2 separate regions of the Homo sapiens genome follow, and region 1 is linked to region 2. A link means that fine-mapping ties the variant in region 2 to the expression of a gene that starts in the linked region. Tissue or cell type: sun-exposed skin. Region 2 holds a variant in brackets; the other region holds the start of a gene. All regions are shown on one strand. Distances are between the middles of the regions.

Region 1 (6,410 bases), 70 kb after region 2:
GAATATTGACTCACATGATCACAAGGTGAGGTTTCACAATAGACTTCAAGCTGAGAAGCAAGGAAGCCAGTCCGAGTCCCAAAGCTGAAGAACTTGGAGTCCGATGTTCCAGGGCAGGAAGCATTCAGCCCCAGGGGAAAGATGGAGGCCAGAAAACTGAACCAGTCTAGTCTTTCCATATTCTGCCTGCTTTTATTCTGGCTGTGCTGGCAGCTGATTAGACGGTGCCTACCCAGATTGAGGGTGGGTCTGCCAGTCCACTGACTCGAATGTTAATCTCCTTTGGCAACGCCCTCACAGACACACCCAGGAACAATACTTTGCATCCTTCAATCCAATCAAGTTGATACTCAGTATTAACCATCACAGTTGATATAGCTGCTATGAAGAAGTTTTTCTTATCATCTGAAACTCTTTGAGCAGCAAAATTCTGCTTAGCATCCTAAGCTGCATTGAGAATTAAGCTTGGCAGCATAGATGGAGTAAGGCTGTCATGATCTTATACACGCTGTCACAGTCTCTGCATGTATGGTGAAGTTCCAGGTGCCTGACACACGATGTGCTCCACCCTGGTGACATGTCCACCCCAGTGCAACTCCAGCCTCCTGTGCCTATGTTTAGAGGCACAGTGTCCCTTCCAATGAAGGGCTGCCTTCTTTCTCTATTCAAAAGAGGCCGTATCAGTTTGATTTATCTTTCTATAAGTCTGATCATGAATAACTTAAAACCCTGAATACCAGTATTTTTCAAGAAAGACAAATCCAATTTCAGGGTCAGCATCAATTTATGAGAATAGCAAGTGCAGAGGCATCATCAGAATCCCCTATGGATCTAAAATAACTGTCCGTGCTTGGCCCCACACCTGGAGATCCTGATGGAGTAGATCTAGAGTGGGCATAGGCATCTGTGTTTTATTTTCTTTATTTATTTTTTTTGGGACAAAGTCTCACTCTGTCACTCAGGCTGGAGTGCAGCAGTGTGAACACTTGGGTTGTCATCATGTTGCCCCGGCTGGTTTCAAATTCCTGGGCTCTCATCATGTTGCCCAGGCTGGTTTCAAACTCCTGGGCTCAAGTGATCCTCCTGCCTTAGCCTCCCAAAGTTCTGGGAGTACAGGCGTGAGCCACTGCACCCAGCCACATCTGTATTTTAAAAAGTCCCATAGATAAAACCCACATATCCATTGCAGGAGACTGGATACACAAAGTGTGGCTTATCCATGCAATAGAGAGCTAGCTGCTCAACAATAAAAAATAAAAAAGCTGTTGATACATGCAACAACACAGAGGAATCTTCTAGACATCAGGGTAAGTGAAAAAAGCCAGTCACCAAAGAATACATAGTGTAAAATTCCACTTATATGAAGTTCAGAAAAGGGCAAAACTAATACATGGTATTAGAAATCAAAATTGTAGTTTACACTGAATGGGGGGAGTGGGATTGACAACAAAGGGACACAAGAAAACTTCCTGGTGGTGATGAAAATACTCTGTACCTCATTTTACGTGACGGTCTATGTGGATACACACAATCTCAAAAGTAACAAACTGGCTGGGTGCAGTGGCTCACACCTGTAATTTCAGCCTTTGGGAGGCCAAGGCCAGAGGATTTCGTAAAGACAAGAGTTTGAGACCAGCATGGACAACATAGCAACACCCAATGGCTACAAAAAATAAAAAATTTGCCAGATGTGGTGGCATGTGCTAACCACCACAAGTCCTAACTACTTGGGAAGCTGAGGCAGAAGGATCACTTGAGCCTAGGAGTTCAAGTTAATAGTGAGCTACGACCACACCACTGCACTCCAGCCAGGGCAAGAGTGAGACCCTGTCAAAAAAACAAAACAAAACAAAACAAACAAACAAAAAAATAAAAAAACACCAAAAAACCTTCACAAATGAAACCCTTGAGAGATATGCATTTTATTGTCTATAATTTATAACTCATTTAAATAAAATGGCCTAACTTCCCCTTTAGACCCCAAGCCAGAGTCTTGCATGGGTGCCAAGGAGTGGCCTAATCAGTTCAGCCCAGCCATAGACTCAAGAAAGGAAACATTTTCCTGTTCCCTGCCTTATATTATACAATCCCCCATTTTAATTTACTTTCCAGCATTTCCCTCACGCTTTCTCTGTCTTTTGGATTAAAAAAAAAACAAAAACAAAAACCCAGGAAACCCAGCATAGAACAACCAGCTCAATAATGAATCCATTTGTCTCCACACACTGTGCCCCTCTCCTGTCTCCATTTCAGCAGCCACATCCACATTCTTGGAAGAAGTTCCCCTGCTTCCAGGCTACTTCAAGGTGCATGATGTTGATTGAGCATCTACTATGTGCCAGACCTTGTTGACCCCTTTATTAAGGCTACTTCCTTTTCTTTTCAAAATAATCCTGAGAAGTAGATGTTTTTACTGCCCCCCATTTCCAGATTAGTGATCAATAAAGGGAAGTAATATAATGTCCAAAAGTGATATTTTAGTTTGATCCAGGTGCCATAGCAAAACATCATCAACAGCAGAAGTTTATTTCTCTCACTTCTTGAGGCTGGGAGGTCCAAGATGAAGCAGCAGCAGACTCAGTATTTGGGGAGGGCCTAGTTCCTGTTCATAGGCCGATGCCTTCTTGATTAAGTCTCACTTGGTGGAAGGACCTAGCTGACTCTCTGGCATCTCTTTTATAAGACCACAAATCCCATTTTACTCTCATGAAGCCATGAAGTCACCTCCTAAAGTCCCCACCTCCTAATACCATCACCTTGGGAGTTAGGATTTTATCCTATGAATTTGGGGGTGGGAACACACACATTTAGACCGCAGCAGGTGACATTAGGTTAAGTGGAGGAGGCAGGGTTGGAACAGTCATTGCAAAACCTCTTAGAATTTAAGACCCCTTTCCTTCCAAGGCCTGAAAGGCAGACAGGCGTTGGAGATACAGGTGAATATAAAAGGGGCAGAGCTCCTCCCTTGACCATGTATTTCATGCCCAGTCGCTAGAATTCAAGTCAACCAAGCCCTCACACACCCGGGCCGTCCCATGTTCTCTGGCTCACCTCTTCTGGTAGCTTAGAAGTGGCAGCCTCAGGGAGGCTTCTGTTTGGTAGAACTTAGAAGGAAGCATGTGGGAAATGCAGATGTCTTTGCTTTTAGGATTCTGGCTCCCTGAGATCAGAGGAGTGGGTTCCCGTACGGGGGTGGCGAGGCACAGGGAGAAGCATTGGAGCAGACTCTGTGTGTGTGTGTGTGTGTGTGTGTGTGTGTGTGTGTGTGTCGGCGCGCCTGTGCGTGGAGGGGGATAACTGTACCCAGCGCGAGGCACTGGGGGAGGAGGAAGCGGTAGCAGAGATCTGAATAATTGATTCTTCAGCCGCACCAGACGCCCGGGAGCGGGCGGAGAGCGTGGTTCCAACACCACGGACAGCAGCGCGCGCCGCCGCAGGCGCCCCCGTCGCCAGCCAGCCACCTATCCTGGCCTTATTTGCCGCCGTGCGCTCTCGGAACGGGTGGCCGCGCTCCGCGTCGCCGCCGAGGGACTGCGGGGTCTGTCTCGACCCACCTAGGAGAGAGGCTGCGGGCAGGAGACGCTTTCGCCCGCCGGAGCTCGAAGCCTCTTGGGCTTGAGCGGGGGCTACTGCGTCTCGCCGGCTGAGAACAAGTCCCTAAGTTGGTGTGGAGGGCGCCGCTACCTTCCTTCTCCTCTTCCTCGGAGGCGACCGCAGCAGAAAGACGCCCCGGGAACCCGGCTTTGCCAGTGCTGTGAACCAGGGTGTCCAGGCGCTCACCGGACTCCCGCTGGGAAGTGGGGAGCCGAACGCCCGGCGCGGAGCTGGCCCAGCAGCGAAGGGCCCGGAGGGAGCTGCCTTTCCCCGCCCGCGCCTCTCTCGGCCGGGGACCGCGGGGATCCCCGGCCACACGCGAGCGCGCTCCCACACTCACACACACACTCGCCCTCAAACACACCAGCCCGGAGCTGGGTTGCGGAGAGGGTGCTCCGGCGCGCTCAGAGGACCGGGCAGTTGCCGTCCGGAGTGGGGCAGGAAGCGGAGCTAGGGATCTTGGAGGGGAGCTCCTAGGGCTTGGCCGGATCATGGGACCGGGTGAGCGCTGAGAATCGCGGCCGCAGCCATCAGCCCTGGAGATGACCAGGAGCGGCCACTGCTGAGAACTATGTGGAGAGAGGCTGCGGTGAGTGCTAGCGCGGGACGCCGGGCCTGGGAGGCCCCCTTGGGAAGGGGGGAGGTGGGAGGCCTGAAGAGGGAGGAAGCGGCAGGATCACAAGAGGGTCGCTGCGTGGGAAAGATCCACCTCCCTCGGGGAACCGGGACCGCGGGAGCCCGCGTCCTTCCCTCCCCCTCTCCTACTGCTGGCTCGTCACAAACTCAGCCAGCGCCCCCCCACCCTCGTTACCTCCTCTTTCTCTCCCTACCTCCCTCGCTCAGCAGCTCCCGGTCGCACAACTCCCAGCAGCCGGCGCTGGGGAGGTGGTAGGGGGTGCGGGTGGAGGTGCCCAGTTAGCTTCTCGTGGGTGGCCAACCTGGGGCTCCCATTCTCCTGTGCACCCTGGAGTGGAGCTCCCGCTATCAGCCACAGGGGCTGAGGATCCGCACTGGGGGCGTCGTGGGCATCGGGCTTCAGCTTCCCCCCTCTTGTCTAGCCCCCCTGGGCGCATAGGGGGGCTTGTGAGCACTGCAGACTGCAGCCTTCCCCTCAACCCTCCCTCCCCTCGTTGGTGGGCTGACCCTGCCTCTCCTTCTCTCCTCCGCCCCGTTAGAGCCCTGCTGCAGAGCCTCCGGCTGGGATAGCCGCCCCCCGTGGGGGCGATGCGGACAGCGCGGGACAGCCAGGGGAGCGCGCTGGGGCCGCAGCATGCGGGAACCCGCTAAACCCGGTGGCTGCTGAGGCGGCCGAGATGCTCGTGCGCGCAGCGCGCCCCACTGCATCCTCGACCTTCTCGGGCTACAGGTACGTCCCAGAGGGAGATCAGGGCTCCTTGGGCCGGGGAGGAGGGAGACTCGACCGGAGGGAGAGCGGGAGAGGGATCAGGCTAGAGAGGGAGAGGGAAAGCGGGAGGGAGCCCAGCGGCGAAGTGCAGGAGGGGCACCAGGGGGCGCTGCGGCTCCGCGCTCCGCGGCGCTTACCCAGGAACGTCGAGGCCTCTTGGAGTTCGCCTCAACTTCCCCCGGCTCCAGCAGCGTCCGTCCCGAGAGGCGCGCGTCAGGGCACGCGTGCACGACCGTGCTGGTATTTGCAGGTACGCAGGGCTGTGCACCTGCCGCAGTTCATGCGTGTGCACCACCTGAGGACATGTGAGGACTCCGGCTGGCCGTGGGCACCGCTACAGCAGTCTGAGGAAGTGCGCAGAAAAGCGCGCGTGCCTATGAGCGTGTGCGGCCCACTGCCCACGTGCACCTAGGACTTGGCAACAGCGCCCGCAGTAGAAAGGCTAGGGAGGGGCTGTACAGTCCACGTCCGTCTGGGAGCTTCTTGGGAGCCTACCTTTCCCCCTACGCACGTTCTTTGCCAGCTCCTACGCGCTGGCCCGCGGGGGGACGCGCCTACTCTCCAGAATTCAGCATTGCACACGGCGCGCGTGAGAGAGGGTGTGTGTGTGTGAACATGTGTGTGTGCGTGTGTGTGTGCACGTGTGTGTGCACGCGCGCGTGTAGGGGTGAAGGACTCTCCACGGCCCCTTGGCTCGAGGTGGGGCGAGCCCCAAGTTCCCCAGGCACAGCGGAGCCTGGGCCCACCAGGCAGCGTCCTCACTCCCAAGCACTTGGGGTGTACTCTGACTGAGAGGAGCCGGGTCTGTAGTTGGGGCTGGGCGTAGAGCAAAGTGTGTGGTGCACACGACGGGCTCGTAGGGGGCGGGGTCAGCCAACTAGCTGAGCTCTCAAGCTGGGACGCGGGGTCTGGGTGCCGCCTCCGCACGCCCTGCGGGGTCTGTAGTTCGCTCCGCGCCAGCAGGGGGCGGGGTTGATAACTTGGTCCTCTCTATCCCAGGTGGGAGGGGTTGGATGGAGGGTTTATTCTGTGCACCTAGGAGCTTGGTGGGGTACAGAACACGCGCGGCGCTTAGGGTCTGTGGCCCGCGGCGAACTTGGGGAATGCGGTGGGGGATATGGACAGAGATGGGGATGGGGAAGTGCCTGGAGACAGGGGATGAGGAAGCTGGATGCGAGAAGGGGCTGGGGGATGGAGAATTAGCTCGAATTGGAGTTGTGGATAGAGTTAGAGATGGATCGAGGGATGTGGATGGCGTCGGGGACTCGGAATGGAGTCCGTGATCCCAGCAGCCTATCCTGCTGCTGAGTTCCATGCCTGGCTCCTAGAGCAGGAAGCCAAGTTGGTAATCCCTTTCTTCTGGTCGCCTTGCTCACCGCGGCCCTGCCTCTCACTCTTCACCTTGCAGGGA
Region 2 (8,124 bases):
TTTCTGTAGAGATAGGGTCTTGCTATGTAGCTCAGGCTGGTCTAAAACTCCTGGGCTCACACAGTCCTCCTGCCTCAGCCTCCCAAAGGGCTGGGATTACAGGCGTGCATCACTGTGCCTGGCTGGATCACTGTGTTTCATTCTTACACTGATGCTGATGTCAATACTTTTTAAAAATCCCTTCTTGATACATGAGAAAATGGAGGCATAGAGGAGTGACGTAGTCTGCCCAAGATCACCTACTTGGGAAGTGGCAGAGCCCAGATTTGGATCCTGCTAGAGCCTGCAGAACCCCTTTAACCCAATGGTTTGCCACTGAGGGTGATTTTGCTCCCACGGGTCAGCTGGCAATGTCAGGAGACATTTTTGCTTGTCACTAGTTGAGATGGAGGTGCATTGGCATCTTGTGAGTAGAAACCAAGGACGCTGCTAAACACCCTAACATGCACAGAACAACCTCCCACAACACAGAATTACCAGCCCCAAATGTCAACAGTTCCAAGGTTGAGAAACCCTGCTTCAGCTAATCATTACACGGGTTTTAGTTCTATGAGTACCCCACAATTCATTAGGGAGACAGGACAAAGGCATACATGAATTCTAGTACAAGGAAGAGGCATGCTACAGAAAGGGTATAAATCATCCTTATGGCCCTCATTAGACCTTTTAATTTCCTTATAAGCCCTTTATTGCCACGGCTAATCCTTGCTAACCCTGCTCAGGGCTGTTTTCAGCAGAGGAAAGTTACCGAGCCCGTCCCCGCCCCCCGCCCCGCTTGACGTCTGGCGCCTCCTGGTGGCCTCAGGAGAAACTCCATCTTCCTCAGATACCCCACAAAGTCCTTCCCCTTCACCTGCCCCAACTCCAACCTCAGCCGCATCTCCCTGGGGCCCCTCGGCATCCTGATATAGTCACTGCCTCCCGTTGGTGGTCACCTACTGGCCGCAGCCCGGGACCTCTCACAGGAGCTGCCCTCTCTGCCTGTGAGTTTCTCCATTCTTTTTTTTTTTTCCCAGCTTTTGCACTGGGTACACTTTTTTTTTTTAAACTCTCCACTATGTTAATGAGGACCATTTTTCTTCTGCTTTGCAAACCCTGCTCACCCCTTCAGACGATGCTTAAAGACCCTCTCCTCCTGGACATCTTTCTGATTCTCCCAGAAAAAGTGAATGGCAGGGTCTTTTGTGCTTTCAGGCCTGGGATTTATGGTTAGGTTATAACTTACTAATTTATGTCTCTTTGTTCGTCCATCTGTGTGTCTGTCCCTCCACCTGTGGCTTCTAAGCCTGACTACAAAATGTCCTGGAGGGATTGCTAAAAACAAAGAAAGAAACAAGCAAGCAAACGATCTCCATCACTACAGGCATTTGCGTATATTTTTACATTCCCAGGGGGTTCTGAAGTACCCTAACATCTGAAAACAGCTCTGTATTGTTGCTCTTCCTTGTTCAGATCTGGCTGAAATGTCACCTCCTAAAAGAAGTGTTCCCTGACCTTTTGTAGTATTAATGACAAGGTTGGAAGAGGTGGCTCGAGGATTTATCACTGGAGGCTTTGAATGCCAGGTTAGGCAAGACAACGGGACATGGCTCTGTGGGCTTCTTAGGGTTTTTACCAGAGGGAGGGAGGTGATTCCTGGTGAGTGTTGGCAGTGTTAGTCCAGCAGGTTGGTGCAAGATGGGTGCAGGAGAGGTGAGGGCTAGATGTGGGGAGTTCCTACTAAGAGTTCTTGTAGCAACTTGGGAATGAGGAAACCGGGGCTTGGGCTGGCTTGAAGGCTGTGAGCATGGAGCTTCGGGGAGAGGAGAGAAGGGGACAATGTCAACACGTCTTAGACAGGTCCAGGCACTGATTAGCTATGGGGATGGCTGTGATGAATGAGTCAGACATGGCACTCAGAGTTCTAGCCTTGGCACCAGAAGGCTGGTGCTACTGCCAGAGGTAGAAAAGGCAGGGGAGAGCTCCTCTCCTGAGGGTAGATGATGGATCAACACTGGGACCCACTGAGTTTGAGATCCTAAGAGGATCATCTAAGAGTGGACTGAGAGGAAGGTCAAAAGAGGGGAAACTAGAGAGGAATCCCTGGAAACACACGATGCCTCATTTCCTGAGTTCAAGAAATAGCTCTTCCGGCATCTCCTACGTGCAGGCCCCCACGCCAAGTGTGCGGGTGAAGTGATGGATTAAACGGGTGTGATTCTTGCCCTCATGGAACTTCCCCTGTAGTGAGGGAGAGAGAGGAAAGAAATGTACCAAATATTTTCCAAAATTAATAATGGCTGGGCGCAGTGGCTCACACCTGTAATCCCAGCACTTTGGAAGGCGGAGGTGGGAGGATTACTTGAGGCCAGGAGTTTGAGACCAGCCTGGGCAACATAGACCTCGCTAACAATAAAAAATATTGGCCGGGCGTGGTGGCTCATGCCTGTAATCCTAGCACTTTGGGAGGGTGAGGCAGGCGGATTGCCTGAGCTCAGGAGTTCAAGACCAACCTGGGCAACATGGTGAAACCCCACCTCTACTAAAATACAAAAAATTAGCCGGGCTTGGCGGCGTGCGCCTGTAGTCCCAGCTACTTGGGAGGCTGAGGCAGGAGAATTGCTTGAACCCGGGAGGCGGAGGTTGCAGTGAGCTGAGATTGCATTGCTGTACTCTAGCCTGGGTGACAGAGCGAGACTCCGTCTCAAAAAAAAAAAAAAAAAAAAAGCCAGGCATGGTGGTCTGTGTCTGCAGGCTAAGGTGGGAGGATTGCTTGAATCCAGGAGGCAGAGGTTGCAGTGAGCCGAGATTGTGCCACTGCACTCCAGCCTGGGTAAGCGAGACTCTGTGTCAAAAATAAATAAATAAAATAAAATGTTAGCCAGGTGTGGTGTCATGCACCTGTAGTCATGAGTCTCCTGAGGTGGGAAAATCCCTTGAGCCCAGGGGTTCGAGGCTGCAGTGAGCCATGATTGTGCCACTGCACTCGAGCCTGGGTGACATAGCGAGATCCTATTTCTTTTTTGAGACAGAGTCTCAGTCTGTCACCTAGGCTGCAGTGCAGTGGCACGATCTTGGCTCACTGCAACCTCTGCCTCCTGGGTTTGAGAGATTCTCCTGCCCTAGCCTTCCGAGTAGCTGGGATCACAGGCACCTGCCATCATGCCTGGCTAATTTTTGTATTTTTAGTACAGATGGGGTTTCACCATGTTGGCCAGTCTGGTCTCAAACTCCTGACTTCAAGTGATCCTCCTACTTTGACCTCCCAAAGTGCTGGGATTACAGGAGTGAGCTGGGATTACAGGAGTGAGCCACCACACCTGGCAAGACCCTGTCTTAAAACAATAATAATAATAATAATAATAATAATTGCTCTGAAAGAAACCAAGATAAAGAAAAAAAATGTATCTTAAGTTCCGTTCCCTAGAGGCAGTCTGAGATGGCAACTGTTGTGCCAGTGATTTTTTGAGGGGCTGCTCTCAGTGAAAGGAAAGTCAGAGAAGCCAGGTAGTTAATCCTTTAGAGAAGGTTTCAGGTATGAGCCCTAAGTAGCTGATACCTACAGCAGTTGGGGGTGGGTCCACTGGCCTGGTGACAAGGATCTGAGTGGGACATTGACAGTATCTCCTCCCTTGTGGTAAGGGAAGGCCTGAGGAGGTGGCATTGAAGCTGAGACCTGAAGGATGGGAAGGAGAGAAAACCTGAGGCACGTGGTTGATGGACAGAAGGCAGTGCTCTGCATTCCAAGTGGAGGGGGTGGCACCGCACTAGTCCTGATGTGGAAGCAAGCTTGATGTATTCGATATTAAATTTTAAATGAAATTATTTAGGTATTAGACATTACATTTTAAAGGAAATTATTTAATTTAGGTATTAGACATTAAATTTTAAATGAAATTATTTAATTTAGTACATTAAATAATTTACTCTTTATATTTTAATTATTTAAAATGAAATTTAATATTAAAGAAAGCCAGGGTGGCTGGGATTTCTGAACCAAGGGAAGCGTAACCCAACATGAGATCAGAGC[A/G]TCGCCAGGGACTTGTAAACATCGTGCAGAGCCTGGATTTTATGCTAAGGGCAACGAGAAACCTTTGAAGAGGTTTTAGGCGAGCAGCTGCCGAGATCTAATTTATGTTTCAAGATCATTCTGGCTGCTGTGCAGAAAATAGAGTAGGGTGAGGCAGTCATGCAAACCACAGTGCTAAACACTTCACAGGCATTCACGCAAATCCCACGGTGATCCTCGTTTTCCAAGGGGTAACTGAGACCCAGCGAGGGTAAGCTATCTGCCCAAAGACACACAGCTAACAAGGCAGCAGAACTAGGATTAAAAAAAAAAAAAATTCATTTTTAGAGACAGGATCTCACTCTGTCACCCAGGCTGAAGTGCAGTGGTGGGACCATAGCTCACTGCAGCCTTGAATTCCTGGGCTCAAACCATCCTTCCACCTCAGCCTCCTGAGAAGCCAGGACTACAGGCGAGGCCACCATGCCGTGCTAATTTCATTTACATTTTTTCATAGACACAGGGGTCTCGCTATGTTCCCAGGCTCGTATCAAACTCCTGGGCTCAAGTGATCCTCCTGCCTCAGCCTCCCAAGTAGTTAGGACCACGGCTGTCACCATGCCCGGCTAATTTCATTTTAATGTTTTGTAGAGATGGGGTCTCGCAGAGATAGTTAGGGTTAGGGTTAGGTTAGGGTTAGGGTCTCGCAGCAAGACCCATCTCAACGAAAAATTTAAATGAAATTAGCAGGGCCAATTGGCCTCCTGGATTGCTTAAGCCCAGGATTTTTTGTATTTAAAAGAAATTTAATTTAATGAAATTTAAAGGCAAACAATTTAAAGGTTGGTGTCGAACTCTTGGGCTCAAGCAATCCTGCCTCAACTTCCTAAAGTGCTGAGATTATAGGCTGAGCCACTGCACCTGGCCAGGAGCTGGGAACGGATTGCAGGCCACCGAAGCTGCAGTCTGAGCCCCCACTGTAGGAGCTCACCGCCTCCTTCAGGGTCCGCCTGCTCCCCTTCAAGGCCAGCAACGTTCTGCACAGGGCAAGAGCTCCATAAATGCTCTTTGGGCGGAAAGGTGTGGGAGTGAGAGAATCTGGACAGGAAGGGCCCACAATGGAGTGGGGAAGGCACCGAGGGGAGCAGGCAGGGTCCGAGGAGGAGGGAGTTAGCGGAGGGAGTGCTGGTGGGGTGGTGGTCATGAAAATCAGACGTTCCCAAGCGACACACCCGGACCAGACCGTAGAGAAGATGCTGGACTTGGTGCGTGGGAATCATCAGCGACCCCGGCTAGGGCAGCTTCGGGCAGCGTAGGGAGGAAGCCAGATTGCAACGGATTAAGGAGTGAGGGGGTGGCGAGATTTGCTGTCCTGATTCAGCCGCCGCGGCGGCAGCCCGGGCTGGCTCTCCTCCCACAGGTGCGGGCTCCACATGCGACGGGAACACGTGTGCCCACTCGTGCCACAGGCATGCAGGTGGGTGGAGGGGGCGGCTGGGGAGGACTGAGGCCCGGGAGTGCGGACAGCCGGGGTGCACAGCCTGAAACGGAGAGCAGAGGGCTGTGGGCTGCCGCGGGACCACGCGCACAAGACCCCACGCGTGGGCTCCGCCTGGGGGGAGTGAAACAGAGCGGAAGGGGTTTGCTTGGGTGCTGGGATGCTTCTCTGTGGAGGTGGCAGAGAGAAGGAGGGAGTGAAATGAGAGAGAAAATGGTGAGCTGGGCAAAGAGGCCAGCCCCGTGTGGTTTTTGGAAAGGACATAGTAGGCCTGGCATGGTGGTGCACGCCTGTGATCCCAGTGCTTTGGGAGGCGTAAGCGGGAGGATCGCTTGAGCTCTGGAGTTCGAGGCCAGCCTGGGCAACATTGTGAGACCTTGTCTCTACTAAAAATTAAAAAAAAAAAAAAAAATGAAAAGCTTGCAGTAGAAGTAGTAATGAACAACAGCTGCCATTTATTGAGGGCCTGCTCTGTGCCCAGCGCTGTGCAAAGTAGGCTTAATCGTCCTGAGACTCTCACTCTGATGAAGAACATGTTAATGGTATCATCATCATGTTGTGGATGAGGACACCGAGCCTCAGGTTAAGTGACTTGCCCAAGGAGTGCTAGAATGGAACTTGGGCTGGACAGACCCAAAGCTCCTGCCCCTAACCCCTTTTTGGTGCTTCTGTCTACACCTTCCTGGAAGGGGGTGACACGTGGGGTTTTGAGTTAGTCAGACCTGTGTACCAGCCACTGCCCTGTGACTTTGGGTCATTTCCACCCCAGAGGGTTCAGTTTCCTTTTTTGCAAAGCAGGGATACGGAGAAACTTTGGGAAGGCTGAGGTGAGAAGCATCTAGATAAGGGCAATTCATTCGTTCATCCGTTCATTTGTTCGTTTAGCCACAGGTGTATTGAGCACCTGCTGTGTGCCTGATGCTATGCTATGGGAATCGATAGTCATGAGCTAGATGGGGTCTGTGATTTCATGGAGCTTAAATCCAGGGGAGAGATATGGATAATAAATGAGTAAATAAATTTACTAGGTAATTCTGGATCATAGTAGATGTTACAAAGGAGAAAATGCAGTGTAATGAGAGAGAGCGAGCATGATGGCTGAGGGCCTCTGCAAACTTATCCGCACAGCAAATGGCAGTAGCCAGTATGATGCTCCAATTTCTGCTCCAAACAGAAGGTTCCAGAAACCTTAGCCAAAAGATGCCTGGAATCACTGGGGAACCCAATCAAAAGGTGGATACCTGCGTATTTGGAATAAGACTCCCTGCCTTTCTGTTGGTTGTGTTATCCTTGGTGTGAAGAAACAGAGGCTCAAAGAGGTTAAGCAACCTGCCTGAAGTCACAGAGCTAATAAATGACGGGACCGGGATTTGAACCTGAACAACTGGATTCAGGAACCTGTACACTTCATCAGTAGGCTGCTGGAGAGTGCAGACACTTTTTGTTAAAATGCAAACACCAACCCTGGGAAGAGTAACACACAGGCTCTTTGTTGCTGTTACATGGAATTTCCGTGTATGAGGGCCCTTAGAGATCATTTAGAGGAGCGAAGATCAGAGAGGTGATGTCCCTGCCCAAGGGCACACAGCCAGGCAGCCACAGAGCTGGGTTAGGAGCCTGAGGACAGATGTCTCTAGAGGGTATGGCACTGTCTGTCTCCAGCCCGAAGCTCGTTTCAGGTGGTGCTTGTCAGCTGATCACCCTGGCTCCATCAGCCATGCTGGCACTGCACAGCAGCCGGTCTTTATGGGCACGGACATTTTAATGTCCTTTATTCAGGCAAAACTCATTCCAGAATTTGAGTAACTTTGCATCTGGGGACATGTTTCACCGAGCCCCGAGTGGCTGAGTTGGCTCATGCTGGGTGACAATGACTCACTTTTATTGCCCCGTTGCTTTTGAGCCTGTGCCCGCCACAGATAACCTTGCAGGAGGCTGCAGCTGCCCTGGAGGTAGCAGCTCTCCAATGCTCCCCCTCGCCTAGTTAGCAGCGAAGGTGCTGTGCAGGCTTCCCCTCCTGCCCTTCTCAGCTTCCCCCCTACCCACCTCTCTCTTCTGGTTTCTGCAATCTATCCCCTTGGGGAAGGAAACCTGCCACCATTTGGGCCCAGGATGAGTAATTGGTACTTAGAAGGAAAATAAAGATGCCAAACAGGTCTACACGTTTGTCTGAGTGGCTCTGGTGTTCTTTCAGACCCTGATTCCACATGGCCCGGAGCACCCTGACTTGCTTTCTCAAGCCCCATTTTCCACATTCCTTCCTGGGTTGGAGATGGCCGGGACCGAGAGAGACAAAGCGGACCCCTTAGCATTGAGGCACGAGATGATGAAGCTAAGCCGACAGAAGAAAAGCTGACCCCACAGAAGGTGATGATGTAGCCCAGATATTTAAAGGCAGCTTTGATTTCAGCTGTCCTCTGGGCATCTCATGTGTCACAGCCTCATTTGTTGGGATCCTGGTTCAGACAGTGCAGTTATTACCTACAGTCATTTATTCATTCAACAAACAAGTAATGAGCACCCCAGCTCATTGTTGGAGATGCTGCAGTGGGCAGGACATGCAGGGGGCAGCTGGCATGGAATCTATGGTCCGTGGAGGGAGATAATCCTTGGATGATGATACCAATTGTTACTGAAT

The links. PIP is the estimated chance that this variant, and not a neighbour inherited with it, causes the effect.
Region 1: it holds the start of GRIN2A, and the variant in region 2 is fine-mapped to the expression of GRIN2A in sun-exposed skin (GTEx, PIP above 0.99).

The regions. Positions count from the first base shown.
Region 1 is chr16:10,180,427-10,186,836 of GRCh38, reverse strand. GRIN2A (glutamate ionotropic receptor NMDA type subunit 2A) reads left to right here and starts at 4,409. Exons shown (of 13, transcript NM_001134407.3): 1 at 4,409-4,960; 2 at 6,408-6,410. RefSeq lists silencers at 5,142-5,201, 5,212-5,321.
Region 2 is chr16:10,249,655-10,257,778 of GRCh38, reverse strand. It overlaps LOC105371078 (a long non-coding RNA gene), which reads left to right and starts at 5,136. Exons shown (of 3, transcript XR_001752077.1): 1 at 5,136-5,465. The variant A/G (reference allele first, on the strand shown) is at 4,010.